7 linked regions of the Homo sapiens genome follow. The protein of the gene in region 6 purifies or fractionates together with the protein of the main gene of each other region. This does not show direct contact. Each region holds a gene or a part of one and is shown on either strand. Other genes may lie near its edges. The genes, in order: DLD, UPF1, ANGPTL7, OXCT1, KRT72, TF and F13B.

Evidence for each region.
Region 1: the proteins of TF (region 6) and DLD fractionate together in Homo sapiens (co-fractionation; one large-scale study listed by BioGRID). This does not show direct contact.
Region 2: the proteins of TF (region 6) and UPF1 purify together in Homo sapiens (co-immunoprecipitation; one large-scale study listed by IntAct). This does not show direct contact.
Region 3: the proteins of TF (region 6) and ANGPTL7 purify together in Homo sapiens (co-immunoprecipitation; one large-scale study listed by IntAct). This does not show direct contact.
Region 4: the proteins of TF (region 6) and OXCT1 fractionate together in Homo sapiens (co-fractionation; one large-scale study listed by BioGRID). This does not show direct contact.
Region 5: the proteins of TF (region 6) and KRT72 purify together in Homo sapiens (co-immunoprecipitation; one large-scale study listed by IntAct). This does not show direct contact.
Region 7: the proteins of TF (region 6) and F13B purify together in Homo sapiens (co-immunoprecipitation; one study listed by IntAct). This does not show direct contact.

What each region holds. Positions count from the first base shown.
Region 1 is NC_000007.14:107,904,683-107,908,182, forward strand, and holds part of DLD (dihydrolipoyl dehydrogenase, mitochondrial isoform 1 precursor), read left to right. Parts: intron 1-275; coding exon 276-376; intron 377-678; coding exon 679-822; intron 823-1,584; coding exon 1,585-1,686; intron 1,687-3,500. UniProt on the Homo sapiens protein: Lipoamide dehydrogenase is a component of the glycine cleavage system as well as an E3 component of three alpha-ketoacid dehydrogenase complexes (pyruvate-, alpha-ketoglutarate-, and branched-chain amino acid-dehydrogenase complex).
Region 2 is NC_000019.10:18,852,459-18,855,958, forward strand, and holds part of UPF1 (regulator of nonsense transcripts 1), read left to right. Parts: intron 1-528; coding exon 529-613; coding exon of another isoform or gene 614-646; intron 647-793; coding exon 794-892; intron 893-2,118; coding exon of another isoform or gene 2,119-2,142; coding exon 2,143-2,251; intron 2,252-2,420; coding exon 2,421-2,580; intron 2,581-2,665; coding exon 2,666-2,784; intron 2,785-3,466; coding exon 3,467-3,500. UniProt on the Homo sapiens protein: RNA-dependent helicase required for nonsense-mediated decay (NMD) of aberrant mRNAs containing premature stop codons and modulates the expression level of normal mRNAs.
Region 3 is NC_000001.11:11,188,223-11,192,154, reverse strand, and holds the start of ANGPTL7 (angiopoietin-related protein 7 precursor), read right to left. Parts: upstream 2,801-3,932; 5' UTR 2,576-2,800; coding exon 2,200-2,575; intron 1-2,199. UniProt on the Homo sapiens protein: Has a role in the formation and organization of the extracellular matrix.
Region 4 is NC_000005.10:41,807,926-41,811,425, reverse strand, and holds part of OXCT1 (succinyl-CoA:3-ketoacid coenzyme A transferase 1, mitochondrial isoform 3 precursor), read left to right. Parts: intron 1-3,500. UniProt on the Homo sapiens protein: Key enzyme for ketone body catabolism.
Region 5 is NC_000012.12:52,598,664-52,602,836, reverse strand, and holds the start of KRT72 (keratin, type II cytoskeletal 72), read left to right. Parts: upstream 1-1,373; 5' UTR 1,374-1,384; coding exon 1,385-1,810; intron 1,811-3,534; coding exon of another isoform or gene 3,535-3,566; intron 3,567-3,724; coding exon 3,725-3,939; intron 3,940-4,173. UniProt on the Homo sapiens protein: Has a role in hair formation. Specific component of keratin intermediate filaments in the inner root sheath (IRS) of the hair follicle.
Region 6 is NC_000003.12:133,791,393-133,794,266, forward strand, and holds part of TF (serotransferrin isoform 1 precursor), read left to right. Parts: 3' UTR 1-2,874. UniProt on the Homo sapiens protein: Transferrins are iron binding transport proteins which can bind two Fe(3+) ions in association with the binding of an anion, usually bicarbonate.
Region 7 is NC_000001.11:197,064,461-197,068,503, reverse strand, and holds the start of F13B (coagulation factor XIII B chain precursor), read left to right. Parts: upstream 1-1,243; 5' UTR 1,244-1,280; coding exon 1,281-1,344; intron 1,345-4,043. UniProt on the Homo sapiens protein: The B chain of factor XIII is not catalytically active, but is thought to stabilize the A subunits and regulate the rate of transglutaminase formation by thrombin.

The sequences.
Region 1 (3,500 bases), on a different chromosome or scaffold from region 6:
GTTCAGAGGATATGTTATCACAGTGGGATATAATGTTTTATTTTGGACTGCCTTTTTACCCAAGGTAGACATTTTATAGTGTTTGATAGGTTCTGTTTCTGTGATACAATGATGTTGGCCTTTTGTCAACTATAATTATAAGTTATTACATTTTGAAACTTTAATACTGCCTTTTATAAGCATTAGGTTGAAATTTTCCAGTTGGTGAGTGAAAAACACTGCATATTGCTTCAAGAATTTAGCTAAGAACTAAAGATTAATTGAACAAATTACAGTGTCCGAAGTTCGCTTGAATTTAGACAAGATGATGGAGCAGAAGAGTACTGCAGTAAAAGCTTTAACAGGTGGAATTGCCCACTTATTCAAACAGAATAAGGTCAGTGTTTAATATTCAGATTTCTGCTTTACTTTGAATACAAATTAAACTTTGCATTATAGAGTGATGATATTTGAACTTGGTTACAGGGGAATATTTATTTAATTTAAAATAGCTTGCTAACCTGAAATAGATTTCCCTGACATATATCACAGATTTTTTTGCTGCACCATGGTGTAGCATTACTAAGTAAGGAAGCATTTTGTTTTAGATAAATTATTTACAGAGTAATTTTTCCTTTGAATGATTTATCAAACAAATTACTTTAAACTTTGTGAATTTATAAAGATTATTTTGTAAAGGTTGTTCATGTCAATGGATATGGAAAGATAACTGGCAAAAATCAAGTCACTGCTACGAAAGCTGATGGCGGCACTCAGGTTATTGATACAAAGAACATTCTTATAGCCACGGGTTCAGAAGTTACTCCTTTTCCTGGAATCACGGTATTTATGCTTCATAATTTACAACCATTACAACTTTTCTTTAGAAATACGTTTTATAAGTTATTTATGCTATTTGTGAACTTTGAGAGATTTCTGACTGAAATACTATATTTTGATGGTCATTCAGCTTTGGGAAGTTACCTGTCTTTATTCTGCAGTGATTCTGACCAGCTATAGAACACTTTATATTAAGATATGTTTGAATACAGTATGAAGTTAAAATTGACCATTGCGTTTGGAATATTGGTGGATAAAATTTAAAGTCAGTGTTTTTAATGGGATTTGATGAAATTAGGTATATAGATACCTCAAAACAAATAAATGACTTAGTATTTTTAGTGATTCTACTGAGATCACAGTTTATAAATACATTTATCTCTTCATATCCTTGGAGGATTGGTTCCAGGACCCCCCTTGGATACCAAAACCCACAGATGCTCAAGTGCCTTACATAAAATGACATAGTATTTGCATATAATCTGCATACTTCCTCCTGTATACTTTAAGTCATCTCTGGATTACTTATAATACCTAATACACTGTAAATGCTATGCAAGTAGTTCCTATGCTGTATTGTTTAGGGAATAATGACAAAAAAACCATGTGTACATGTTCAGTACAGATGCAACCATCAATTTTTTTCCTGAATATTTTCAATTAATGGTTGGTTAAATCTGCAAATTTGGAACCCATGGATATGGAGGGTCGACTGTACTAGGTTTTTTCAAATTATTTTGATTATATCTTTTGTTTTTCTTACAGATAGATGAAGATACAATAGTGTCATCTACAGGTGCTTTATCTTTAAAAAAAGTTCCAGAAAAGATGGTTGTTATTGGTGCAGGAGTAATAGGTGTAGAATTGGTAAGTGTTGTCTTTCTGCCTCTTATTACCTCCTTGGAGTTGGAAGGGACTTAAAGGTCCCCTTTTTGATTTTTTGTATAACATTACAGGCTGATCAGCATTGAGTTTTGCTTAAACACTTCTAGTAATAAAGAGTTTACTTTTGTTTTTTTCAAGACAACCTATTTATGTATTTACTCATTTAGAATGTTCTCCTTTATTTTAGTCTGTTTCCTTGTACCTTCCACCCTTCCATTTCCTAGAACTGGTCGAATTCTTTTTTAATATGACAGCCATTCAGATATTTGAGGACAGCTTTTATCCTGGGCAAATTGCATTCCAAATAAAGATTATTCTCTTTACCATCACATACATGATTTGGCTCTTCCCTTCTCTATCCTCATCTTGATGCCTCTTAACTTAGGTTTTAGAAATGTCAAACTACTTGCATTTCTTTGAACACCATGTTATTTTAGACCTTCTGTCTGCCTTGTTCTCCCTTCTTGTCCATCTGGCAGCTTTCCACACATTTCCAATGACCTCCCTCCATTTTAGAGTCACTGTGCCTTGTAAACACCAGGAATTGCTCTACTTCTGAAATAATAAATTCAGATATTTTATTATGTAACCATGACCTCCTTTCCTCTTTTACTCAGTTATTCATAGTGTACTTTGTACCCTTTTTTAGGTTTTCTAGTCCATAGATCTACTTTTTTGCAATCTTCCCTTTCCAATCTTGACTGCGTTCCTGATCAGCTTAGATGCCATAGTCCATCACTTTAACCACACTCTTACAGATGTCCTTGAGTTGCTTGTCTCACTGTTCTGTCATATCTGCTTGGCAAAACTCTAGTTCGGTTTGAATGCAGCAGTCTGCCTTTTTTATGCTATTTCCAGGCTGTTGACTACACCTGGAGAAAAACACACCCTACTCATTGGTACTTGTATTAATTCTTGGCACAAACCTTAACAAGAACCTCAGCCTTGCTGACAGTTTATTATTTCCTAAGATGGTACACTGCCCTGGTCTCTGCAATGGCCATTTTCATTTTCTACTCTTCTCAAATCTCTGCTTGTATACTGTCTGCTCTGCCTGTGGATGACCTTGTCTTTTAAATATTACATAAAAGAGAAATCAGATGAGAACTCCCTCAAGTTGATGTCCTAAATTTGATAATGCTTTTACCTGTTGTTACACCTATCCTTTTGATTACCTCTCCTATTACTGTGGAAATGCCATTTTCCCTAAGACTAATCCCTTTACTTGTGCTTGGTAGCACATCATCTGCCTTTTCAGAGACTTGGTTTTGTGATTTTTATTCTTGTATTTTTCAGTCTTCAAACTCCTTCCTTTTATTTACAATTTCATGTGCTTCTATGTGTGTACCTGTGATGCATTTGCACTCATTAACACAGGTTTGTGTGCACATAAATGCTCCTTATCTTGGTCCCATGTCCTTCTTGAGTTACCAATTTTGTTCGCACTTTTCCTTCAAAACCCAGCTTCTCAAAAGAGTTGTCCATGCTTTATTTCATCAACTTCCACTCACTCAGTCTATGGCTTGTGCCAATAAATTGCTCTTAGGGCATGAATCTATTTATTGCTCAATCTGTTGGACTAATTTCTTCACTGCTTTATTTGGCAGTAATTAGCATTGCTGATTTTCTTGCCTTTGAAACACTTTGCCTAACTTCTGTGATTTCATATTCTTCCATTTTTACATCTGCTCTTTGGGCTGAATTCTCCATATTATGCAAGTTCCCCTTTCTTAGGCTTCCCTTTAATTGTTAGTATTTTTGTTTTTCTTTTTTTTTTTTTTTGAGTCCGAGTCTTG
Region 2 (3,500 bases), on a different chromosome or scaffold from region 6:
GTGGTCTGAGCCCCCGCCCTCAGATCTGACATCAGCCTCAGTGTTTTCTGTTTAAATCCAACACATCTTTCCCAGTGGGGTCCACAGCTTTGCCCACAGTTGCGAGAGTTAGACTCGGGCGTGATCCCTGTGAAGACCACATTTAGGCAACGGGAGCCCTGGAGCGCTGACCTCCCCTCCCTCCCTCCCCTCCTCTTTCTGTCCCTCCCTCCCCTCCTCTTTCTGTCCCTCCCTCCCCTCCTCTCTCTCTTCCTCCCTCCCACAGCAGCTGCTCCCTGGCCACGGAGGCCTCTGGTGTGCGGTGAAGCCTCCAGACGGGATTGGCCTGTGTGTGTTCCGGGGACTCCTAATGGCTTCTCTTTCAGATGTGCCCTTGGTGGCATTTGGGGCTGCAGGTGCCACTCACGGCGCCTGCTCTCACGGCAGAGGCTTGCTGTAGGGCCCGCCTCATGGGGCCTCGGGCATGTGGAGGCCAGGCCCGGGCCTGTGCTGGAGGCTAACCGGGGCTCTTGTTTTTCATGTGCTCAGACTCAAGATAACATCACTGTCAGGTGGGACCTGGGCCTTAACAAGAAGAGAATCGCCTACTTCACTTTGCCCAAGACTGACTCTGGTAATGAGGATTTAGTCATAATTTGGTTAAGAGGTGATTTTAAGTTTTAAAATATTTGTGACCATAAGTAGCATAAATTCCTAGTTCCACCCTTGTAAAGTGCCCCTTAATTTGAACTCTCCCTGGTGGAAGCGACGGCGTGGGTTAAAATGGCCACCTCTCTCACTTTTTTACCTCAAGACATGCGGCTCATGCAGGGGGATGAGATATGCCTGCGGTACAAAGGGGACCTTGCGCCCCTGTGGAAAGGGATCGGCCACGTCATCAAGGTCCCTGATAGTATCCTTCATGTGAAGAGGGTGTGGCCGGCTGGTGGGAGAGGAAAGTGGGGGCATCAGGTGGAGGCCACTGTGGATTTGATGCTCACTGCTGGGCCAGCATCTCATGCTCTGTGGTGGGTGCTGGTTGGCATCGCCCTCCACTGCTCTTAGGAGAATCACAGGGCCTTCACCTTCAGGGGACAGCTGGTTGTATGGTTGCTTCCCCTCTGCCCGAATGGTGATGTTGGTGATGCCACTTGTGTGGCGCGTCCCTGGGCTGACTCTGGAAGTTAATGTATGCCGCTTGTGTGGCACGTCCCTGGACTGACTCTGGAGGTTAATGTGGCTGCAGGAGCGCCTTACCTGGACGCTGACTCTGCACACGGAGGTTCCAGAAGCCAGTGGTCACATGCAGACCCTCTGAGCACACACTTGCTCCCAGGCCATGTTTGGGAATGTGCAGTGACCTCATGGTGATGCAGCCTGCCGGCCAGAGTGGGGCAGCTGTAAGGCACAGGTGCAGTCAGAGGCTTGGGTGGGGAGGAGTCCTGGGAGAAGACACCGCGGGTCAGACTCAGGCTGCCTCTTGGTGACTGGCCAATGCTGCTGGGGCCTGACCATTCAGCGGTGGCCTCCACAGGGGTAGGGAGAGTTGTCTCCCACACCCACCCTGGGCCTGACAAGCTCATCCTGAACACGTGAGACCGGTTTTGGGGCTCGGGGTCGAGGGAAGGGTGTTGCCTACCGGCCACAGCCTCCTGGAGGGCAGTTTGCTTGTGTATGTGGAGCCTTTTGCTTGGCCGTACTGGGAGGGGTGTTGTTTCTGTGGAACTGTGAGAAGAGCTGCTGTGGCCAAAGCTGGGTTCTGCGAGCTCTGCCTGCCCCTGCTGGCCACATGTGCAGGAGCTCCCGGTGAGGTCCTGGGGCCCAGGATGTGGCTGCTCCCTGCTGGTGAGCGCTGCTGGCTTCGCTGCCGCCCTCTGCGTCTCTGAAAGGGGCCTAGATGGGTGGCTGGGAGTGGCAAGGAGGAACTCCAGGCTGGCTGGGGGTGGGACACCGGCTCATGGTGAGGTAGAGTCTTTCTTCAAGGATGCTGTCCTTCTGGTCTCTGGTCTGGTGTTGGCTGCACGTTTTTAGCGTTTGGTGCAGAGCCAGCGGTGTCTTAAGTAACTAAATTTTAAAAACGCTGTTTAAAGAGCGTGTACCAAGGGTGGCCCAGAAAGGTCAGCCCGGCTTTTGACAAGGATGCAAACTTAACTCAGCACACAGATTATGGCGATGAGATCGCCATTGAGCTGCGGAGCAGCGTGGGTGCACCTGTGGAGGTGACTCACAACTTCCAGGTGGATTTTGTGTGGAAGTCGACCTCCTTTGACAGGTACGTCTTCTCCCATCACTGCCCCCTGTTCCCTGGTTGCCACCTGTGGCATCTTTATGAGCCCTCCCCGTCACTGTGGAGTGGGGTTCCCCACCCAGCTCTGCAAACTCAGGATGTCGGAGAGGCGGCCACAGCTGTGCGTGTCGCCAACCCCAAACCCTCCTCACAGGATGCAGAGCGCATTGAAAACGTTTGCCGTGGATGAGACCTCGGTGTCTGGCTACATCTACCACAAGCTGTTGGGCCACGAGGTGGAGGACGTAATCATCAAGTGCCAGCTGCCCAAGCGCTTCACGGCGCAGGGCCTCCCCGACCTCAACCACTCCCAGGTGCGCGCCGTCCTCAGCGCGCGGGGCCTCGCCCATGGGCCGGGACGCAAGCGGAGGCTGCCCCTAACGGCCGCTTGTATTGAAGGTTTATGCCGTGAAGACTGTGCTGCAAAGACCACTGAGCCTGATCCAGGGCCCGCCAGGCACGGGGAAGACGGTGACGTCGGCCACCATCGTCTACCACCTGGCCCGGCAAGGCAACGGGTAGGGCTGACACGGCCCTTGCGGGCAAGACCCGGGAGGGCTTTAGGGTGGCCAGATGGAAGGCCTGGTGCTGGGAGCCTTGGGCTCTGTCACACCGAAGAGAGCACGTGGCGGGTAGTGTCGCCATGGTGCCTACCGCTCTCTATGTGACATTATTCGTGTCAGCTCCAACCTTAGGATTGCATTTTAGTAACCAGGTCTGCTACTGGTTTAGAAAACTGGGGGCAGGGGGGGCATGGCTGCAGCAGCGTGAGTTCCGTGTGCGGCACTTTATAGTGTGGCGGGATGGTGCAAGTTCCAGCCTTGGCATTGCTTGCGGTGGGTAGAGCTGTGAAGCCTGGGCTGTCTGGATCTGAGCTCCTTCGGCATCGTGTCATTACTGCCTGTTAAAAATGTCAGGAGTTTAAGGCCAGCCTGAACAGGGTGAGACGTCTCTACAAAAAAAAAATTCAGAAATTAGCTGGGGGTAGTGGCGTGCACCTGTGGTCCCAGCTACTCAGGAGGCTGAGGTGGGAGGATTGCTTGAGCCCAGGATGTTGAGGCTGCAATTAGCTGAGATCACACCACTGCACTCCAGCCTGGGCAACAGAGCAAGACCCTGTCTCAAAAAACAGAGTCTTGGCTTACTACGTTCACCGAGCTTCCTCTGGGTAAGCACTGAGCTGCCCCAATGGTGTTGCAGGCCGGTGCTGGTGTGTGCTCCGAGCAACATCGCC
Region 3 (3,932 bases), on a different chromosome or scaffold from region 6:
CATCAGTGTCTGCATTTGGGAGAGGTGGATATGGGGAGATCCAGAGGGGGTGTATTTTGGCTTTACTAGCGGTGGAGCAGAGGGGTAGGGAAGCCCTTCACCTGGATAGCATTAGTGGGACGTTCCAACAGGTGGTTTCAGGTTAACTCTGAAATAAATTATTCTGCTATAGCTGGGCCATGAATTCTAGAAATGTTACAGTGTATGAGGGCCACGTAACAGATACTCCTGTCAGATAGATTCAGACTTCTTAGACAGCCGCCACTATAACAAATCAGTCGTGAATATCTCATAGAGTCTGGTTTTGTTGATGTTTCCTGGTTGGTTGTTTTTGTTGTTGTTCAGAGATGGTGGCTACTGCCACCTGAGACCATAATTAAGGGAGATAGATTTTATTATCACATATTTTCCCCTTCCATCCAGCTAGCACCTCAAAACACTCAGAAGAACCTTTGAGGCCTTCCTCCCAGAAGTTTTGTTAAAACAATGAAATGAGAGCATCAGACTGGCCAGTTTTTTTACTCTAGGGCCATGGAGCTGCTACTTTATGCAGGATTTAAGCTCTGTATTCTAAATATCAAAGAGCATAGTGGAAGAGACAGCCTTTTCTGATAGGATTCAGAGACTGCGGCCCTTACTATCCAAGAGAAGCTTCCTGCCTGCTATGTCTCGGGGTGCTTTTCTTGGTGACCACTGCACTGGGACCTTAGAGAGGAGCACCAAGATGGCAGATGGGAGTTGTCTGAGGCACATAGGTTCTCTTGCAGAGCACCTTGGGAAAGGGAGGTAGAGTACGTGTGCCTTCGCCATCACTATTCTTCATTTCGTCTTAGTGGTGAAAGCACCAACTTACTGCTTCCTCTAAGGGACTACCTACTTATAGAATATAAGGGTAACTGAGCACTTGGTCATAGAGAAGAAAAATAAGGAATGATGTCCTGGGCAAGAAGAGCAAGAGACCTGGTGGGAGAGCTGCACTTGACCCCAAGAACCTCCTTGCAGGATGGTGAGAAAGCCTCCTGTTTGGATGAGCAGGAAGTGGCACGGTCAGATTCCTCTGTCTGGCCTGGTCTTCCGCATGTCTGGTTTCATCTCACAGACCAAATCAGGACTCACTTGTCTGGAAAATGGCCTGAGAATACCTTTCTAATCCCAAACTGAGGGCCCGGAAGTCCATGCTTAGAAAGTGATTGATACATGTTGGTTCAGGTAACAGAATTTTCAAGCTTGGTTTCATGTTAAAACTTTTTCTTAATTTGAGCTGAGGTTAACCATTGACTTAGTCAGTAGAAGCTGATCATGTCTTTGTTCTTCATGTAGTTTATAATGGGACCAATGGTTTTTATATCAGCAAGAAATGACATGTCTATAGGATATGCTCCTTACAACTAATATTTTCCTGATAATTTCAGAAAACCAAATTTTTATCTCTAAACCGTAAATTCATGTTGGCCCACCTGAGCTGAGCTAACCAGAAATAAAAGTTATTTTGCAAAAGAAAGATTAAATTTATCTTATTTTTGGCCTATTAAGTCTATATTTCAGCATTGCATTTAAAAAATCCTGTATTCGGAGAAATTCATTTAAGACCATGGAAAAAAATAGACGTATCACAATTGAGGAACCTTAAGGAGCCGCATCCTTCCTGAACACAAAGGGACTCTTCACATGGTTATGTGTCTCTACACTTAACTCTGAGCCAATGAGAAGAGTTACGTTTACAGAGAGAGGACACAAAATTCCATTAATGCTCATTCCTGGTAAATCTTAGGAACACCAGAGAACTGTTTCTGGCAAAACTTTGCTTCCAGAGGAACAGCTGTTACAGTTTGGTGCTTCCTTGGAATTTCTTGAGATATAGCCTGTCAGCTCTTGGTGAGGAAGTAGCAGAGCTACACCAATCAGGAAGACTTGAACCCTGCTTCTAAGACTTGCTGGGTGACTTTGGGCAAACCATGTAGTATCTCAGCACTCCAAGATGGTAGGCTGAAACACTGTGTGGATAAAAGAGACCCGTGAAGGTGTTAGGTAAACTTACATAGCATTAGAAGTCAAAGGAAATACTGCATAAGCCTTTACTAAAGGGAAAGTGTACCCACAAAAGAGGCCCCAGTAGTGGTTCTGATGACCAGGATATGTAGAAGCAGTGCTGTAGATGGGGAGGCACTCCACGCTCCCTCAGGGGACTGGTCTCCTTACCTGCGGAGGTCTGAGTGACCGTCTGTGCTGCCTGCAGCTGCATGATGTCAATTTGGTTGTTCATCTCGGAGTACTTGCTCTCAGCATCTGTGAGCCGCGACTCCATGCGCTTGCTGTTGCTCTCCAGCTCCATCACCTGCATGACCACGCTGACCCAGTCCCTCTCCTGCTTCTTGTTCAGTTCACTCAGCAGGCTGCTAAGGTTGGCAACTTGGGCCTTGAGCTCCTTCACCTCCTCACAGCAGTTGGCCGCTTTGAGCTGTGGCTGTGCTGGTGTCTTGTGCTTAGAGAGCTTCTGCAGCCACGCTGGGTGGCTGACAAAGGCCACGATGAAAATGCAGAGCCAGGTCACAGCTGAGAGAGGCTTTTTCAGCATCTTTTGTGGGTTTGGGTGAGGAAGGCTCTTCCTTCAGGGGAGTCTGGAGATGCCCAGCTGAGGTCTGCAAAGCTGCAGCAGGCTGACTGAACCTTACGCTTTCACTCTGAGGGCCTCGCCACTTTGTTGTTTTCTCTCTTTCCTTGCTCTTTGCTAGCCTTTCTCAAAGCTTGAGTCTCTGACAGGGGAGCTGAATGGGTAGCCTATAGCTTTCCTTCCAAGCCCGAATGCTCCACAAGTCAGCATCTTAAATATTGTTTGCTGCCTGTACCTCCACCCCTACCATGGCTGCACCAGGCTTTAGCCCCTCCCAGCTCATCTGGGAGGGTCAGGTGCCTGTTGGGTGAAGTCAGCGGCAACTTAGGCCAGAGGAGGGGAGGAGGGAGATGGGGCGAGTCTTTCTTTCCTTGCCTGTACAGTCTCTGGGCTAAGACAAGAGGACTGTGAATTTGTGTGTTTCCAGTTTCGCCTATTAGATTATGCCCCTGCCAGCCACTGGCTCAACTCTATCAGCAAGCAGGACAGGGTCAGAAGAATTTCCAAATTCCGTTCAAAAGGTTATATAACCATGGGGTGAGCGTAAGGTAGGCGAAAGAGACGCTACTCACCCAGGGAGGCCTGTTAATGTAATCCATGCTGTTTATATGAGGATCTGGTATATTTTGACATCCTGCTGAATATGCTTTTATCTAGGCTGATTATTCCCATCTCTGATCATTATTTAGTATTTTATAAAATCCTTACTCAACCTGGATCTAACACTATCTCACATTTGAAATCTTCCAACTTAGAAAAGTTCTAGAAATAGAAGAATAGAGTAAATCTCTTAGGAAGCCAAAAAAAGACTTTGTAGCCACAGGGTTTGGACAGTTGTCTTTTTACATGCTTTCTCCTTCAACAAAGAGAGGGCCAGTATTAGCATATAACACTTGATATTTTGCAAGGAGGTGTCAGAAGATTACAACAGAGATGAAAACTCAGCAGTGCCAAGCATGTCTGGGATTGGTCACCCATGCTTCTGTCAGTTTCTAGGCAGGACAGAGAACAGGCCCATCCTTAGCCCGTGGTTCAAAACTTGGAAAATATATTAAAATATAGAGAAAAGAATCCCTGTCACCTAATAAATCCATATCTAGAGTCTCATTTCCCTCTTTCTTTGCTGGTATGGTTTGCAATTTGAAATTATTCCTCCTCTATTTGTATATGACTTTGTATCTAAAAAACATGAATATTGTAATTTTTCATGTACTATATATGAAGGACAATGCTCTTTTGAAAAGAAATGTGAAAAACATGGAGTTTCAGCAAACATCCTTAAAATAAGCTTTTCACTAAGAATCTATACAAAGGTTCCTCT
Region 4 (3,500 bases), on a different chromosome or scaffold from region 6:
CCTGTATGTTTTCAGGGTACCTGTGATAATTTGACATATTCGTATAACATAAAGGTAAAATCAGGGTAATTGGGATATTCATTACCATATTTATCTATTCTTTATGCTAAGCACATTCAAATTATTCTCTTCTAGCAACTTTGAGAGGTACAATAGATTTTTAACTATAGTTATCCTATTTATCTATTGAACGTGAGGTCTTACTCACATTTCCTCTTCATTTTACTCATTTTACTTCATTTTAACATCCAGAGCACCTCTGCATTTAACTTGTAACTTCTCTTATTGCTTATTGTCTCCCCCTTTTATTTTTCTAGACTTCCACAGCTGCTTTTTTTTTTTTTCCCTCTCTTTTGGAGTTAATGTTTCTCATGATTCTAGACATTATTGCTTGTTGTCTGTTTTTTTTCTTTTCTTTTTGGCAAAAGAAGTTTCCTCCTAAACTTTTTTGAAACTTAAAATGAGTCAGGAAGAAAGCCTGGAATGTGAGTCTCCCTCTTCCTCCCCCTCAACAGCCCTTACTTTGTATCGTACACAGAGTTTTGCAGGTGTGTATAATTTTTCGCTAACACCATTTAGGGTTGGGTCCATTTTTGTGTCTATAACAGATTGAGGTTGTCACTAAAATAAAATAAAAAATGAGGACGTTATTGCCTTGCAGCTCCTCTTTTCTCTTACCTGAGATATAATGTTTGCCAAGCAATCACAAACACATTGTCACCAAGGGATGAATTCTTATCCTTCTCTAAGCTTTAAAATAAGTTTTCAGTTATAAAGTAGGAAGAGTGCAGTGCAGAGAAAGCAATCTTTTAAAACAAAGTTCAGATCAATAACAACATTTCCTAGTGTCTATTTTTCTGTTAATGACTAAAGACAAGTACCAATTAGAGAAGCCTCAAACGTCTGGATTTCTGGTTGTAGCAAGTGGTGGGGCATGAGAACTATTCATAGTGCCATGGAGAAGTCCGGGTTGTTCTTAGCTACCTCTCTTCCATCTTGATCTTGCCTGAGGATACTTACATCTGCCCATTGCTTTGCCCTGAGGCTTTTCCTTTGTCCTTTATTCTTTATTACCCATTTCTAACTTCAGGAGGAAAACTCTGCCATCTTTAGTAAGGGATCTTTTATTTTTATGTTTGTCCTAACCAGCTCATTTTAGTCATCATTTTCTCATCAGGTTTTCCATTAACGCTTATGTTTAAATCGCCTGATCTCACTAGACTTTTTAATCCTCCCATTGCTCCTTCCTTATTGTTCTCAAGATCACACGAAACTGGCACTGAAGTCAGTCCCTTCAATAGCTAGCATTAAGATAGTTCTGCCTCTTCATTTTTTTTTTTAAACTCTTTTCATAGATTGTCTGAAAACATGTTTTCTTCTTTTGGTTTGTACTTCAAATATTTTCTTTCTTAGCTATTAACTCTGCTAACCAACTCTGAGAAAGCTTTGATTTTTGTATAGACGTTTTCAATACTGTTGAGTGTTGTTATTTTGACAAATGCTGCACATGCATTTTCTACAGTCTGAAAGCCATTTATATTAGGATGACAAAACATGGAATTGTTTATGTTTAGCTAGATTCTTGCTTATCGGAGTTGTTTTACCAGGACATATTCATTCTGTTAGTTCTGAGAGTTATGATATAATTGTCCTTGGTAATGAAGCTTTGTCTTGATTTGGTGTTTTCTGTTGAAACATTCTTTGATGGAACCAAAAGAAAATAGTGGCGGGTTTCCATCAGCATTTTCAGTTTAAGTGAGCAATACTTTTTTTTCTTCCTTTTTTATTATGTTCTTTGCCCCTGCTAGAGGGTAAGGCAGGAAGACCAAAGGAAGCTGCTGTCACAATCATAGCAAGAGATTTGAGGGCCTGACCTTTTGGAGCAATATTAGGCATGAAAAATAATTCACATTATTATTTTCAAATGTGCAGGCAAGAAGGGTTTGCTTAGTTTAGTTCATAATGTGACTGCTTTTAGGGTTTAGAAACTTCAGTTTTTCTTAGACTCTCTATTTTCTTTTTAACATGCCCTCTTTGGTACATGTCAAACTAATTGTGAGATTTATCACATGCTCCACTTATGATTTTCTAGTTTTAGAAACTTAGTGTTTATCACATCTTCTGAAAAAATAACATTGTGGGTTTCAGTTTTGATTATAAAAGTAAAAGGAAAACAAAAACCACTTGTACTATTACCCAGAGATAACAATTCTTAGCATTTCCGTGTGTTTCCTTTTATTTTCTGTAGGTATATAAATAATTGTCTATCCCAAAGTGCATTTCTATAAATTTTTATTTACTTATACAAAATCTTGCATTTTATGAAACATGAAATTATGAGATCATTAAATATTATGAGTGCATAATATTGATTAATCACATGGCTACACCATGTTTATTTGACCATTTCCCTATTGCTGACATTAAAGTTGTTTTCAATTCATTATTATAATAAATTTTGTGATTAGTGTTTTCATGAATAATAAATCTTCATGTCTATCCTCAGGATACTGGATTAATGTATAAACACATTTTTAAAGTCAAGAACTTCTTTGAAGGCTAAAACTGAATATGGAAAGATGTGAATGAGCCCTAATGGCTGAAAGTTCCAACCAGTTGAAGAGGTAGCAGTAGTGCTTAGCTGCTCTGCATTCCCCACCTCCACCTCGAATAGAAAATACTGGAGCATACAGAGTTTTCAAGGGGAGGACATAGAGTGCAGTGGCAAGGGGTCTTCGGCCCCACTTTCCCTGTCTCCTCACTCATCCCCAGATGCCTCTCTACCCAGTAGTTCAACTTGGATGCCGACATATTTTCTGACCTTTCCTTGGAATTTTTGTTTGATTTTTCTGTTTATCAAAGAAGATAGCTTTTATCCACCATGTCCTTGCCTTTTTCAGCTATTTGTGAGCATTGCACAATAAGTAAAATGTCTTCTGTAAGCCCTGGTATTCTTGCACTGTAGGAGGAGCCTAGTGAAGGCATATAGTAGTAGAACAGCATAAGAAGGGCTACTTAACCTCACAGATTTCCAGATTTCAGTGATTAGTTTAGGAAACAAAAATCAATACTACTATCCTTGTATAAGTCAGTTCATGGAAGCAAACGTTTGTTTTGGACACTGTATCTGTTAAGCTGAGTACTCACAACTTAAAGGTGTGTATGTTTGTGTGCGTGCGTGTCACCAGAAAGCTAATTCTTTCACCACAACAATGTTGAGTTTAGTTTTTCTTGATCCTTGTTCTTTTGAACTGTTTTATGTTGATAGAAAAATTGTCTTTTAAATTAATTCTAAAATAACAGACTAATGTGGAGGCATTTCATATTGCTATATGACCTTATTCTTGGTGAATGACTTTGATTCTAATTAAATTGAGTATTTCTAGTTATTAATTAATATTTCAGTTTTGAAGTTTCCATATTGGAATTAATTATCTGTCTTTAAGTAAATTATTTCAGCAATTGCAGTTGTATCACGATCCTAGGAAGCTAACAAGAAT
Region 5 (4,173 bases), on a different chromosome or scaffold from region 6:
ATGTCAGCCAATTACCCCCAGGTACCATTTAACCAACCCATGAGGTCCCCAAGGGGAACCCAGCCTTCAGGGTATCACTGAAGGTGCAGTAACAAGCCTTGCCCTAAGCACTCTGCTGTTTCACAATCATCCTAAATGTCCCTTTGGCCAAGGCCTGGGCTGAGCACTGGGGGAGCAGAGGAGGGAAGGGTGAATCCAGGGGGCCCTGTCAATCTGATAGAGGAAATGGAACACACACCCAGGACTCTGGCAGCTTAAGAAATAAGAGCAATGAAATAATCCCACCTGCATGCCAGAGGAACAGGAGAGCTGTTGCTAAGAGAGGAGGAGACTTGAAGGCAGCTTAAGTTTGAGAAAAGGAAATCGGGTTAGGTGGAAGAAGGAGCCTCTGTAGCTTAAAGGGAATGAAGTTCTAGAATCTAGTTCTTGGTTTTAGATCTGAAGAGTCTTGACCTCTTCCTAATAACTGATCACATTTTGATGCTGAATCAGAAATGACTGGGTGGCAAATGACCTGAGCAGAGGTTTGCTGGATGGGATAAATAAGCCTCTTCTGCTATTAAAAGAAAACAAAAATGAAAACAACCGAAAGCCTTAGGAAACACCATCTGCTAAACCATGCCTGAGTCTTCCTGTACCACCTCCCCAGGCCTTCTTCCCTCCCTCCCAGATAGCATGGTCCCCATTCTTAGTCCAGAAATGCTTAGTGGAGAAATCTTTTCGCTCTGGTCCAAAGTCAACCCTCAACACTTGTGACCAGAGGTCTCTGTGTCCTGCCTTCTCCAACAGACTGAGAGGTCTCTGCAGACGGGGCCAAAATCTCCTCCTTCTGAACTTCCTTCTTGCACAAGGGACAGAGCTGTCCTCATCCAGAAGCCTGGGAGGCAGGAGGAGGACAGGCTAAGGATGATTTTCTGCGATAGTCTTGACTCTATTCATGGCCTTCTGAAGCAGAAGCAGCCTGGACTTCTGCTTCACACACCTCCGTCTCCCCAGACACACACCCAGAGGGTCAGCCCCACTGGAAGTTTCCAGGGGTGATCTTGGGAGTGATAACCCCAGTAATTGGAGGCCAGCAGGTGGAGATAAGGTCGCTAAGCCATGATAATGCAGGAGGTGAGCCAAGTAAATGCTGGGTTCTGGGTCACTTTACAGGGATTCATGGGGAGTTCACGGTGGAACAGACAAAAATCTCGGTGAGTGCATGGTAATTTCCTACATGAAGAACCCAAGAGGCCTCAAGGGATCTAAAAGGTGTTGTCGACATACAAATTAGGCTGACTCCAGCCAGCCAGGCTATTTAAGGGGCGAGCTGGGCCGAGAACGCAGCGGCTGTTTGCGCCCCTTCTGCCTCCCGCGCGGCCAGCACCGGTACTTGCGAGCCATGAGCCGCCAACTGACCCATTTCCCCCGCGGGGAGCGCCTGGGCTTCAGCGGTTGCTCCGCGGTCCTCTCTGGCGGGATCGGCAGCAGCTCCGCCTCATTCCGGGCCCGGGTCAAGGGCTCGGCCTCCTTTGGCAGCAAGAGCCTCTCCTGCCTTGGGGGCAGCCGAAGCCTGGCGCTCAGCGCTGCTGCACGGCGGGGCGGCGGCCGCCTGGGCGGCTTCGTGGGCACCGCCTTCGGCAGCGCCGGGCTGGGGCCCAAGTGTCCCTCCGTGTGCCCACCCGGGGGCATCCCTCAGGTCACCGTCAACAAGAGCCTCCTGGCCCCGCTCAACGTGGAGATGGACCCCGAGATCCAGAGGGTGCGCGCCCAGGAGCGGGAGCAGATCAAGGCGCTAAACAACAAGTTCGCCTCCTTCATCGACAAGGTGAGTCCTCGGGCATTGGCCTGTCCCTGCGTTGGGCGCATGTGCACAGTGGTGCTGGCTCTGCCACTGGCGAGCTGTGTGGGAGCGTGGGCGGGTCATAACCTCTCCGAGCCTCCCTTTTCCATTTGTAAAATGGGCACAATAATGGGTCTTACTCCAGTGGGTTGCGATGAGGCTTAATTGGGATGTTTACGAAGTGCTCAGAACAGTGCCTGGCACATACTTCCAATAAACAGGATGTATTAGCCCATTTTCATGCTGCTGATAAAGACATACCCGAGACTGGGAAAAAAAAAAAGAGGTTTCATTGGACTTACAGTTCTCCATGGCTGGGGAGGTCTCAGAATCATAACGGGAGGCCAAAGTCACGTCTTATATGGCGGCGGCCAGAGAAAAATGAGGCAGAAGCAAAAACGGAAACCCCTGATAAACGCATCAGATCTCGTGATACTTATTCACTATTAGGAGAATAGCAGGAGAAAGACCGGCCCCTATGATTCATTTACCTCCCCCCTGGGTCCCTCCCACAACACGTGGGAATTCTGGGAGACTTAATTCAAGTTGAGATTTGGGTGGGGACACAGCCAAAACGTATCAAGGACCTTCATTTCTTTCTTGCATGAGACAAGACTGTGAGAAGGGAGGGGTCAGGATGTCCAAGGAATGGGCACTTTGAGAGCTCCCAATATCAGAAGAGGAGATGGGACCCACATTCAGGGCAGGGCATTAGGAACAGAGGCCAAGAGACGTTGCAGGACATGGTGCTTGGTGCTTGAGGAGTGGGGTAAGTGTGTAGCCAGGAAGATGATAGAGGAGGTGAGAGAAAAGGGCCAGAAAACTGAAGGGTGAGGCTGAGGAGGCACTTGGAAAGAGTGCATGTAAAGTTACAGGTGTGTGCTGAGGGTGGGGCATCCAGAAATTGGGGTAATAGGGAAGTTGTCTCTGGAGCTTCTGAGGCAATGACCCCAGTGAGTGGAGAGGAGACAGGGAATGGACTTCTCTTGTCTCCACCTGGATGGAAGGTCTAGACGGTGAGTGATAAGGGGACAGCCTGATAACAATAGCTGACATTTATGGTGCCGTCCCAAGTGATTCTCATTTACAATCACAACCCATGATTCTGTTGTTGTTCTGCCTTGCAGATGAGGATATTAAGACATGGGAGGCTAAGAAATGAGCTCACCTTGGACAGGACAGTTGGTGGTGGACCGAGTGTCACCACTATGCTAGGGAAGAGGAATTGAGGTGGCGGGAGGGCACAGGTCTGCATGGAAGAAACACAGCAGCTATTCCAGAGGCCAGAGCATTCTCTTGCTCTTTTATGTCTGTTGTTCCCTAGCATGTTTCCTTCTGCCCCTCAAGCTGAAAGATAGGTGAGAAGAGGAATGCTGGTGTGTGGCAGAGGGCTTGGAGTTATTGAGTCTAAAAATGTGCACCCTGGTCAAGTATGAAGGAACTTTGTGAAGATGTGGTAACTTGCTGTGAACAACAAAGAAATGAACAAACCAAGTGCAATTTAGGCTACACAACAGGAGGAACGCTCTAAATGCCAGTGTGCTTTCCAATGTCACTCCCCAGTCCCTGTTTCTCCCCTGCTCCCCATTTCTCTTTACTCAGAAAACACCAGCATTTATAGCATGAGAAGCTACCTCTGTCTCATGAAAACTCACTGAGGCAGAGGCAGATGGTACCATTGCTTAAGCCCTCTTCCTGATTCCATATAGACCGGGTCCTATTTCTTGTCTTGGAGATCCAGGTGAGCATGTCCCTCGGCTGAATCCACCCCGGGATAAGCCTTGTTTTCTCCTACCCCCAGTCCCCCAGGATGGCTGCCTCTGGTTTTTGGGGCCCTTTCCCCACTCTTGAGAGGCAACAACATGGGGACTCTGGGCGATGACTGCCTTTGGGTTCCAGGTGCGGTTCCTGGAGCAGCAGAATCAGGTGCTAGAGACCAAGTGGAACCTCCTACAGCAGCTGGACTTGAACAACTGCAGGAAGAACCTGGAGCCCATTTATGAGGGCTACATCAGCAACCTGCAGAAGCAGCTGGAGATGCTGTCTGGGGACGGGGTGAGGCTGGATTCGGAGCTGAGGAACATGCAGGATTTGGTGGAGGACTACAAGAAGAGGTGAGTGAGTGGCAGGGAATATGGCCCTGGAGGATCTGATTTCAAATGAGGTTTTCGTTTGGAGATGGCATTTTTGCTTCTGAGATCCTTGCTGATACCGGGGGAGGGAGGAACATCCAGACAGAATGGAACTAGGAAAAGAATAGATCTACCTACACCGGTTCTCCAAACTGTCGAGGAAATGTGTGCTCAATTTCTAGCACTGAAAATGAAGGAATGGGGGAAAGAGAGTTG
Region 6 (2,874 bases):
GGCTGCTTTGGGAGACAGAACCCAGAAACCTGGCATACTGGCAAAAGGGTAAGAATTTCTTACCAGCCAGACTCTGGTCTCTGTCTCTCTGTGCAAACTGCATAAATGAATAGTAAAAGTCACTGTTTATCTCCTCTGTAAAGTTTTGATTAATATAAAAAAAGAATTCTGAGGCCGATCTTAAGCTGTAGTGAATCTGGTGTGCTTTGTGTCTTTCTGTATTGTTTTGTCATAAAGAGGGGTACCTTAGAATAAAATGTGTGCTTAGGACCCCATAGACCTGCTGTTCAAGACACACCAGCAGACTGGTCAGTCATGTCTTTGGGAGCTTGACCTTGTAACCATGTGGCCATGCTTTCTCTTTTCACAGTGGCAGCCTGGGTTTAGGGTTCAATTCCTGGCTTAGGGAATGAGTCCTTTATCTTCTGTCTGTGTATTTATATGTGTTGTGTGTGTACTATAAAAGAGCATTAATTAATTAGCTTAATAATAATAAGAGCTTAAATCAAATATTTTATCAGAAAAGTAAAAAATGTAATGCCTTCTATTTACTTCATGTAACTTAAGTAATCTTTGGGAAATAAAGACAGTTTTAAAGATTATTGGTAAAATAAAAATATCTTCAAAATGTAAATATTTAGTCTAAATTATGCAGGTCAGATATTAGATTTGCAAAATGCTTTAAGGTCATAAACCGCTTCTTTGACTTTTAAAAATTGCTCAATTTATTTTGGAGCATTAGATTCTAGATAAGGCCTGGGGACAAATAGAATTAGCCATGTCCCCTAGCTATGCAAAGAAGGTTATAAAGAAAGGAGATTTTATATAAGAAAGGATCTTATATCGTAAATTCGTGTCCTAAAGTAAAATAAGCGGTTGTTAAAAAAGAGGGATGTTTAGGACAAGTTAGAAAGTCAAAGCATGTCGTAGATGGTCTGTGTAAGTCATGAAATAATTTACAAAAGAGAATTTATGCAAGAAATATACAATTTAACGGTGATTAGACCTCCTAAATGCTTCATAAAATGCCACTATGACTCTTAACTCTACAACTTGCCTGCTTTACAGCTCGGTAAGGCCTGAGACACGTGGAGTCAGATGCTGGAGTCAGACCTTAAGTGTACTTCTCTCTGGGTCCTAGACTCCACAACTAATATATAATTAAAATCCTTAACTTACCAAAGTTTTCACCAAAAGTAAAACTCGCTAAGAGTTAACATTGTAACATGTAAGTGAGACTACTGAAGCAACAGTTTTACATGCAAGTTACGTAAGAAAAGTGAATGCATTTTCAGTGAAAGATTATAACAAGGCATGGGAATGTAGATTTTTTTTTCTGTCTAAAGGGTTAAAGGATTGTTTTAAGTTAGGATAAAGCTAAAAGTTTGAATGAGTTGTGGAAGATTTATAAAAATTAATATTGTAAAAAATTATGTGTGTGAACATATTGACTAAATTTAAAGGGGTATTTTCTGGTTTTTCCATAAATTGAACATCAAAATAAAAGCACAAACAGGGTTTTCTTAAAGCACCGATCTGCTCTTTAACAAACATTTGTAAAGGATTATAAAAGGTTTATGAGAATCTCACCTTATGGTCAAACGGATTAAGATTGGAAAGATATGTCTACAAGGTTTTCTTAAAAATTGGGGTTGACATTAATAGCACACTAATGCAAGGGTGAAATTTGGCTTTCTCTCTTGAACAAGATTTTCATGCAGTATTAAAAGATAATGAAAGATCTTTGTTTGCCTTTTGAATAAACTACCCCCCCACCAAAAAAAAGGAAGGGAAAGACAAGAGACAGATTGTTTGTAAAGTAAGTCTTCCATCTATCAACATGGAAAGGTTTTTGCCTTTTAAAACATTTTTGAGTCATCATTTTGCTAAATGAATGACTATGGTAACCTGGAATTCCATTTCATAATGTCAAGTGTTTTAAATCTTTAACATATTTAATAGGCTTCCCAAAATCAAATTTCAGCTTCAAAATTGTCTTTTCTAACCTCTAACTTTGAGATGCTGCAGAGGGCCCCTGAAGCATCCAAAAGAGAGGTAAACAGAATTATTTGACATGTTTAATTACATGGGAAGCATTGTCAAAAAGAAAAAAATTTAATCTTCTTCAGGTTATATTTTAGTGAATAATATTAATATATGTTCCAAAATTGTATGAGATTTCTAAAATTCCAATATGTCTGAGTATATGCTATCAATCATAATTATGATTATTATGTTATTGTAGACCACAGAAATAACCAAATTTCCTTGTCAATTGTGTTTTTAACTATAACTATTTAAAGTCATTTCCACAGTTAATTGCTTAATGCTGATGCAGTTTCTGAAAACTTCACAAGCATGCAAAGTCCTAGAATATGGTGTCTTTTAGGAGATTCATGAAAGATTGGAAAGGACCCTAAAAAGCACTCTTGAATACAGGTTTCTAATAAGTTTAGAATTATATCATTTGAACTGGGTAAGAATTCCTGGAACTTTAATGAAAAGACTGACTGAGTTCTAAAACTGCTAACCCAAGTAGAACAAAAATTAATTAAATACCAAGAAAATACTTTGCCAGATTTTCATGCTAAATCAGCTGATACTGAAACTGTTTAGATATAAAATTTGAATAAACTCCATCATTTAAATCAAATTACCTATGATAACCCATCAGTTATCAGTGTTATGCACCTAATTTGGGGAAACAACTGGTATTCAAGAGGATATGAGTCTAATGTTAATTAAGCATGAACTCATGGAGAACCAGGATGGCCACCTTGTCCTTCCTAAGTCGTTAAAGCTTTTGTTAGTAAAATTTCTGCATTACATGACTCGTCACGGAAAAGATAAAATGATCCAAATTGAATATATTGA
Region 7 (4,043 bases), on a different chromosome or scaffold from region 6:
CTGTTAAGTCTGCACACCAGATTCACGCCCTTTCCTGAGTTCTGGACAGGAAAGTTTGTGTTCGGTTGGAATTGTTACTAAGTTCAGCTGGAGGTTTCCTTCTCCCTGTGGTCTTTTCCCAGTTCCTCCGGCAGCCCCTGTGAGACAAGTCAGAAATGGCTTCTCTGGGGACCCACAGAGACGATGGGGCTTTACCCTTTGCTTCCTCTACCCCTGTATTTCGCTCAGCTCTCTAAATTGTCTGAGCTCCAGGTAAGGTCAAATCCTTCTCCTGTGATCTAGACCTTCAGGTTCCCCAAGGGTGTGTGTTCAGGGGTGGACAATACCCCTTTCACACTTTTCACAGTTTGGGCATTCACAGTATGTGGGCTATTTTCTGGGTCATGCAGGAGCAATATACTTTCTTCAGAGGGTCTGTGGATTATCTTGGCTTTCCTGTTATATCCTTGCAGCAGTTCTTGGAGCAAAAGTTCACAATGCGAGTCTCCACATCCTGCTCTGTCCATCCAAGTGGGAGCTGCAAGTTAGTCCTGCCTCCTATCCACCATTTTTTCCTATTTTGTATTTTAAATTAAAACTCATTAGAATGTAAACTCCATGAGGGCAATAATTTTAATCCAGTTTTTTCACTGCTAAATACCTCAAAACTGTTACATGTGCTGCCATTATCATGGACGTTCTAAACATTTCTCATGAATGAATGTTGATATAGCACAGTGCTGATCTCACCACCTGCCACAAAGTAAAAACTCTCTAAATGTCAAACACTACTATTATAAGTAATACTATTCTATCATTGAGACAACTATGGTTCTGTATCTCTTTAAGGAGTGCAGTCTAGGCAACAACATATTTCAACATCAGGTATCTGTTATCTCATGTTCCTAAGTTCATCTTTTTACCTGATCAATATTAGTAAAGATCTATGGCCTCAAGTGAACTTTACTCTATGAATTTACAATTGGGAACTTAGGTTGAAAATTTACCTAGTATTATTTATTCTGCTGCTATAATTTATTATTTATTCTGCTGCTATTGTTGCCCTAATCAGTTATCATGCTCTTACTGGACTCTGACATGGTAAGTAATGTCAATTAATATAGTTGTGTTATTTTAACATTATTTCAAAATATTTTAAGTGAAATATAAGACTCGTTACAAAAGGACTTAGACAGAGGTTATAAATTATTAACTTTTTCCTCAAGAGAAGTATTGTGTACTTAATGACAAGTTCCTAGTGCTTAGAATTGTTAAAATCTTTGTGAAGCACACCACTGAAGATGAGGTTGAAAAACCTGACTTTTATCATCATATTGATAATCTCAGGAGAACTCTATGCAGAAGGTAAAATTAATTCTTAATATTCTTTATTCTCTAAAACATACAAATGGAGATTCTAATATTTATACAACTCAAGTTTTAATATACTCTTCTATTTTCATTATCAATTTTATAACATATTTTATAAATATAACTTTTTATAATATTTAGACCTTTTCCTTTGAGCAAAATTAGTAAAGTGTTCTTACAGTAGCATAAGTCAGAAAAGCAAAACAAAACAAAAACCCTTGTATCTCTAGGGGGCATAGGAGACCAGGATCTAAATACTTCGAAAAGGTTTTCAGGTTAACAATATGTCCATTTCGAAGTCACATGTTAACTTTAATTCTAAATTTATGCTAGAATCCATTCCTAATACTGACAAAACTTGTACAATTTTAATTCTGTTCATAAGGTGAGAGTTTAATGTGGGAAATTTGAAAAGGAAATAGCCATAAATATTTTTTACTTTTGAGACTTTGATTTTTATCACAATGAATTATTCATTTGTTGGAGACATTAAGTAGTGATTAGTAGGTGAACCATATAATTGCTTGTACAAACAGGGACACTTAGAGAGTAAAAGAGGGGCTCTATTAATAACTGTTTGGACAACACATGTAAATCAGGACTTTCCAAACAAACCAATACCTATGGACTCCCTATTAGAAAGCTTTATAGTCAGATTGCCCAATGTGTAAGATTAGTGTGCGAGTGGAAGCTAGGCAGTGTACATGGGTATGTTGTTCAGGAACATTATCAATATTATCAGGCCATAGGATGAAGAATCCAGGGAGGACACTTAGCATTAGCAAGAGTGAACATACAAAGAAGGAAGCTACAGCAATACAGCTTTTCTAAAATAAACATTTTTGGGAATTTGTTGAAATTAAATACATAAGTTTTAACTGTGTTTTAGTTGAATAGTTAACTATAAATTTTCTACCAAAACATCTATAATTAAAATTATAAAAGTGAAAGACACAGAATTAATCTTATTTTATACTTTTAATTCTATAATAGGATGATTTTTGCATGAATTTCTTTTGATTTTATTTTTCTGTCTAAATAGGGAAATACCAGCAGATATAATTGTCTGTTATCTATACCATAAAGACATTGCAATATTCTAGTTAATTTTCTAATTATTATAAGGTTATAATGCTATTTTACACAACAAAAAAAAAAGTAAGCTGCTTGAAGACCAAGACAATGATTTTATTTTTGCATGCTTCTCTCAACTCCCATTGTGCACTTCAGGGACAAGAATTGAATTAATTGTGTTTCTCATTTCATGGTATGCAAGTATTATTGGCCTATGAAAGGTCTCACTCTTGCTTTACTTACACATTTTATCCCCTTATTCCTAATCTTGAAGTCCATTTCCCCTGGGACCTACTACAATGTTTTAACATGTTACTCTAGCTCTCTCAACCACAAATAGCTCTGGAATGAATATTGTAATATAACCAACTTATCTTTCTGTAAGAATGTCATCAGTCTGTATTCACTCACAGATAGCATTATTGAGTCTATTCTTGTACTTGATTTCTGTAATGAGAGATTACTTTTGCAGAATGGCAGTTTTGAAGTATATCATCTCTGAGAGAGGATGTAAATTGTTGCTCCTCATCATTCTCACCAACACCTCATATTGTCCATTTTTGTACTGGTTGCTATATGGTTATTCATAAAGTGATATCCCATTTTTATTTATTTACCATTCTCTGATCAGTAGTAAGTGTGTCCATCGCTTCATGTACTTTTTTTAATATGTTCAGACATCTGTGATTTCCTGGTTTATATGTGATTAGTATATTCCTCACATTTCTCATTAATTTTTTGTCAGGAATTCATATTCTCCAAGGCATTCCAGCTACCTTAACAAATAATGTGCCTATCCTGGTGGTGGAGGGAGATGTCCCAGGACAGAGAGTCTTTAAAGCCACAACCTAGGATTGTTGTGCAGAGAATACTTTGCTGCCCCTCCCTGACAAGCAACTGTGCCCCTCAGGGAAATTTCTTGTGTATTCACCATTGCACTGCTATTTTGGAAGACTCTTTTTATTGTAAATTCCTTTGGTGCTTGGGTGTGAAAAAATGGTGAGAATAATTCTCAAGGAATGGGGACTATCCAGCCCATGTTTTTCTGTCTGCTCCATCAGATAGTGGAAGTTTTGTTGCTCATCATTCCACATCCATTTCCTTCAAACCTAGGCTAGCACTACTAGTATTTTATGTCTCATAGTAGCATTAAGGTATACAGTGATCAACCAAGGCATTGAAGCCGTAGTAATCACACTGGATCTAGGCCTTCTTCCATCCATGACTGCCCATGTTTCTTCCCACCACAGCTCCTAGGATTGTTCGAGCATTTCTTTCTTTTAAGTGTTTTTATGACTTTAAGATCTTCAACATAAAGATATATTTTTAAAATATATGTTTTATTTGGAGTATAACATATCCAGAAAAATGCAAAAATCACAGGATACACTTATATAGTTTTTACAAAATTTTACACCATCCAGATCAAGATATAGAACAGTGATAGTACCCCAGAAATATGATCCTTCTAAGGCACTAAACCCCAAAGGTAACCATTCTGACTTCTATTATCATGGATTAGTTTGTTTTCTTTTAAAAAGTTATGCAAATGTATACATTAATTCATATGTGATTGGCTTCTTTCACTCAATATTATGTTTATGAGATTCACCATTTGT